2 separate regions of the Homo sapiens genome follow, and region 2 is linked to region 1. The links come from fine-mapping of genetic effects on gene expression. Tissue or cell type: skeletal muscle. Region 1 holds a variant in brackets; the other region holds the start of a gene. All regions are shown on one strand. Distances are from middle to middle.

Region 1 (2,682 bases):
GTGGACACCTGTAACCCCAGCTCCTCGGGAGGCTGAGGCAGGAGAATCGCTTGAACCCGGGAGGTGGAGGTTCCAGTGAGCTGAGATCACACCACTGCACTCCAGCCTGGGCAACAAGAATGAAACTCCATCTAAAAAAAAAAAATTGTTTTTTCTTTAAATATTAGCTGGGCATGGTGGTACACGCTTGTAGTCTAAGCTACTGAGAGGCTGAGGTGGGAGCATCACTTGAGCCCAGGAGGTCAAGGCTGCAGTGGGCTGTGTCCGTGTCACTGCACTTCAGCATGGGTGACAGAGCAAGACCCTGTCTCAAAAAAATAATAAATCTTTCCTAGACTTTTGTTTCCTCCCCTGTTGTTTCTCAGTTAATACTTTATTTCTTTTCTGTCATTTTAAAGATGTTTTTGGAAGGGAGAAGAGATAAACATTTATGGTCAGTTTACCATTTTCAGTAAGCTTCCCAGGTGATTCTGATACATACTGAAATGTGAAAATCACTGGTTCAGAAATTTAAGAGTACAGATTGGACCTAGGATAAGCTTTTGGCTGATTTTCAGGGATCTTTCTTTGTACTGTTATATCTTTGGATTAAATTAGGCCTTTGCCGCCTCTTTGACATTTAGTAGATCTGCATCACTTTTTCTGTTTTCTCTTGCTTTCCTCACCTTCCTTGTTCATAAGCAAACAAAATAAAACAAAGCACCATAATGGTGAAGAAAAAGCCTCTGTTCAAATCTTTATTGAATACCTGCTCTGTGCCAGGCCTTCTGCCGTGTGTTTAGTATATGATTATTAGCAAACAGACATAGCTCTTTCTCTCAAGTCTCATTAGCCTTTCCAGTTGATTGCATGGCTTTATATCATGTGTGGTATTTAGGGAAGAATATATTACCTTTCTGACCAAACTGGTTATATGTCTTATCAGAAAGTTATGTATACTTCTGCAGTCCAATTCAGATGCACACCATCTGGAGTTAGTGTCAGACTCCACAGGTTTAAGGGCACAGTTCTCAGCAAAACTGTGTTTACTTCAGATGCCAACAGCAAATTTTGGGGTCTTCAGGCCACCCGTATTTCTGACCAACTGGCTGCAGATCTGTAGGCTTCTATGACCCCTTCAGGTTTAATAATTCCCAGAATTACTCACAGAACTTAGGAAAGTGCTATACTTATTATTACAGTTTTATTATAAGGGAT[A/G]CAATTCAGGGCTGGGTGCAGTGGCTCATGCCTGTAATCCCAGCACTTTGGGAGGCCGAGGCAGGTGGATCACCTGAAGTCAGGGGTTCGAGACCAGCCTGGCCAACATGGTGAAATCCCATCTGTACTAAAAATAGAAAAATTAGCTGGGCATGGTGGCGGGTGCCTGTAATCCCAGCTACTCGGGAAACTGAGGCAGGAGACTCTCTTGAACCCAGGAGGCGAAGGTCGCAGTGAGCCAAGATTGCACCATTGCATTCCAGCCTGGGCAACAAGAGCGAAACTGTCTCAAAAAAAGGGGGGTGGGATACAATTCAGGACCAGCCAAATGACATAGGGTGAGGTCCAGGAGCATCCTGAGAGCAGAGCTTCCATGCCCTCTCCTTGTGGAATAAGAGCATGTAAACACAGCACATTTATGTGTTTACCTACCAGGAAGCTCCAGTGAGCTGCTGTGTCCAGAGTTTTTAGTTGGAGTTTTATCTATGTAGGCATGATTGAACTCAATCACCCGTCCCTCTGCCTTCCCCATAGTAGATTAGGCTTAAAGCAGTTGATTTTTCTGGTGATCTGCATCCATTCTGAGTCATAGTATTGGCATAAATTTACTCATGATGGGATCTGGCCCACTCCTGTCCAATTCAGGAAATTCCAAGGGCTTAGAGGTTACAGGCCTCCCAGGAACCAGGTACAGAGACCAGACAAATTCTGTATTTTACAACAGAAATGCTGCCAGTTTTTAAAAACTGCCCTAGAAGACTTTCTCCGTCCTTGATTTGAAAGTTCATTAATTCTTTAGTTTTATACTCAAATCCTAAATGGCAAAATTTGTTTAGCTTCCTACCTTCATTGCAGTAGAACAACATTCACAGCCTCAAGGGTTGCTTCAAAAAAAGTTGATGTGGCTGGGTGTGGTGGCCCATGCCTGTAATCCCAGCAGTTTGGGAGGCCAAGGTGGGCGGATGGCTTGAGGCCAGGAATTGGAGACCAGCCTGAAAAACATGGCGAAACTCTGTCTCTACAAAACATAGAAAAATTAGCCTGCCGTGGTAGTGTGTGCCTGCAGTCCCAGCTACTCCAGGGGCTGAGGTAGGAGGATCACTTGAGCCTGGGAGGTGGAGGCTGCAGTCAGCTGAGATCACAGCACTGCACTCCAGCAGGGTCATAGTGGAGTGAATGGTGGAGACAGACTTGACATTTATTTTCCTAGGTCAAAGGTCGTGATAAACATATCAATAATTTGAAAAAGAAATGCCAGAAGGAATCAGAGCAGAACCGGGAGAAGCAGCAGCGTATTGAGACCTTGGAGCGCTACCTGGCTGACCTGCCCACACTGGAAGACCATCAGAAGCAGAGCCAGCAGGTAGCAGCAATGTCTTGGCATGCCTGGGGTGATCAGGGAGTGGCCAGGCAGGGGAACTTTTTCATCATCTGCTGTATGCAGTTATCCTGTGACTTGCTGAAAGGAGAATCCCAAAGCAGTCA
Region 2 (2,682 bases), 51 kb after region 1:
CCCCACCCCTCCCTGGGCCCTCACAGCCACTCTCTCACCCCAGTCCCCTTCCACTGTAGCTTAGTCACCCACTTGTCCCTTCCCTCGCTCCCCTCCCATTCATCCTCAGCTAATACAAACAACCCATCTGCTTGCTACTTTCTCTACCAAAATCACAAAATTCTAGGTCTTGGCTGGGCGCGGTGGCTCATGCCTGTAATCCCAGCACTTTGGGAGGCCGAGGCAGGCGGATCACTTGAGATCAGGCATTCGAGACTAGCCTAGCCAACATGGTGAAACCCAGTCTCCGCTAAAAAAAAAAAAAAAATACAAAAAATTAGCCAGGCATGGTGGCACACACCTGTAGTCCCAGCTATGCGGGAGGCCAAGGCAGGATAATTGCTTGAACCCAGGAGGTGGAGGTTGCAGTAAGCCGAGATCATGCCAGTGCACAGAGCAAAACTCTGTTTAAAAAAAAAAACAAAAAAACCAACAACAACAAAACAAAACACTAGGTTTTAACAAACTTCAGAAATAATCTATTTCAGTCTTCCCAGTTCCTTGAAATGAGGAACTGAGGCCTAGAGAGGGAAAGCCCAACTGAAACCAGGCTTCCCGATTCCTCACCTCCAGCACCTTCACAGAAATCCACCAACCCTTCCACAATCTAAACATTTCCCAAGCTTTCATTCAGAACCTGCAGCCCATCTACAACCTTCCCTTGAAACATAAATCTATCCCAGCCCTTCTCCTTCAGCTCCTATACCCTGCCCCAATCTTCTTTAAACAACAAACTCATTTACGGAATATCTGCTATGTTCTGGCTCTTTTTAAATTGGTTATTATTACATGTAATCCGGCAGTTCTTTTGTTAAAGGGTCAGAGAGGTAGAGTTTCTGGCCCAGGGTCTCAGAGCTGGTCAGTGATTAAACCAGGATTCAGCCTGCAGGATGCATGATTCCAGGCCTTGGGCCCTACTTACTCCCACCGTTGCCTCTGGATTGACCTCTCTCCTATCTTGTACGATCTAGCCTGCTCCCCCAGCCAGGGCCTTAGAACCTAGAGCCTGGTATTATCCACCCCCAGATCTGCAGAAAGGAAGCCACACCCCTCCTCCACCTTGTAAGCCCTCCTTCCTCTCCCTACCTCACCCCGCCTCCTCTGCCTCCTGGTTCAAAAGCAGCTAAACCAAAAGAAGCCTCCAGACAGCCCTGAGATCACCTAAAAAGCTGCTACCAAGACAGCCACGAAGATCCTACCAAAATGAAGCGCTTCCTCTTCCTCCTACTCACCATCAGCCTCCTGGTTATGGTACAGGTAAGAGCAACGCCTGGCACCACTGCCAGGACTCCCCAAAGTTGCTTGGCATGGAGGGAGGGCATACAGGATGTGAGCTCCCAGAGACCCAGCCTTCTCTCCTGAGAGCACAGCAGATGGACTCCAACAGGAAAACTGGGGACACAGCGGGCCTGGCCGCCCAGCCTTCCAGCTCTTCTGGCTGGGGCTGCACTGCTTGCGGGCTGCCCTGAGAGAAACCTGTATCCACAGCTGGGGAGCACTTACAGGGTGCTAGGCGCGTTGGGGCACCCAAGGGGTGTTGTGGAATAATAGAGAACTAAGAGACTTGGGAAGACAACCCTGAGTGAGGAAGGCATCGGCCCACAGGGAGTCTGGGGAGATGGTCCTTTGGGGAGAGGCCAGGAGATGTCCAAGTGGAGCCTGCTGTGGTTATGGAGGTGACAGGGGACACTCTAACCCCCACTCCCCTGCCAGAGAGAAGCCTGGATGTTCAGGAATGCAAAGAAGACAGGACTCTCCCATTTCAGAAACAACTGGAGTCTCAAAAGCGACTGCTATTCCAGGAGGCAGCTTTGGTAGCATCCCAGGTGCCCAGAGGGGAGTCAGTACAGCAGACCGGAGCCATCAAGTTCTTGATCAAGAACAGCTTGATCACCATCAAAACCAGCTTAATCTCCATCAAGAACAGTTCTAGTTGCAGCTCCATCAAGCATTAAGGACAGCTCGATCACCATCTGGCCACTTCCCCACCCCACATCCAGCCACCCACGCTTTGCCAAGTGCTTTCTCACTCAGCCCTGGCTCATGTGACCTTCACAACTGTGATGAACTTCTCCCCACTCAGAAGATGAAACTGAGGCTCAGGGAAGCTAAGCCCTTTGCCAGGCTAGGAAGGTCAAGGGCCAGGGCTCCCCTGTCTCCCTCTATGCCAGAAGGGCTGGTCGCTGGGGAAAGGTGAAAAGAAAGGTTCTGTGACCGGGCACGGTGGCTCACGCCTATAATCCCAGCACTTTGGGAGGCCGAGGCAGGCGGATCACCTGAGGTCAGGAGTTCAAGACCAGCCTGGCCAACATGACAAAATCCCGTCTCTACTAAAAATACAAAAATTAGCTGGGCGAGCCGGGCGCGCTGGCTCGCGTCTGTAATCCCAGCACTTTGGGAGGCTGAGGCGGGTGGATCATGAGGTCAGGAGATCGAGACCATCCTGGCTAACACATTGAAACCTCGTCTCTACCATAAATACAAAAAGAAATTAGCCGGGCGTGGCGTGGTGGCGGGCGCCTGTAGTCCCAGCTACTCGGGAGGCTGAGGCAGGAGAATGGCGTGAACCTGGGGGTGAAGCTTGCAGTGAGCCGAGATCACGCCACTGCACTCCAGCCTGGGCGGGCGACAGAGCAAGACTCT

Which allele goes with the higher level. Positions count from the first base shown, and alleles are read on the strand shown. Sizes are in standard deviations (SD) of each study's normalised expression.
As copies of A replace G in region 1, the expression in skeletal muscle of the gene that starts at base 1,183 in region 2 goes down (large effect, 2.1 SD a copy in FUSION).

The links. PIP is the estimated chance that this variant, and not a neighbour inherited with it, causes the effect.
Region 2: CD52 starts here. The variant in region 1 is fine-mapped to the expression of CD52 in skeletal muscle (FUSION, PIP 0.95).

The regions. Positions count from the first base shown.
Region 1 is chr1:26,266,076-26,268,757 of GRCh38, forward strand. It overlaps CEP85 (centrosomal protein 85), which reads left to right. Exons shown (of 14, transcript NM_001319944.2): 8 at 2,408-2,560. Among named protein-coding and RNA genes, the nearest start is that of SH3BGRL3, 13 kb to the right of the region's middle. The variant A/G (reference allele first, on the strand shown) is at 1,198.
Region 2 is chr1:26,316,776-26,319,457 of GRCh38, forward strand. CD52 (CD52 molecule) reads left to right here and starts at 1,183. Exons shown (of 2, transcript NM_001803.3): 1 at 1,183-1,296. The coding sequence starts at 1,243. It also overlaps a transcript of UBXN11 not described here. RefSeq lists a silencer at 973-1,165 and enhancers at 1,240-1,309, 1,440-1,589, 1,963-2,682, 2,090-2,189.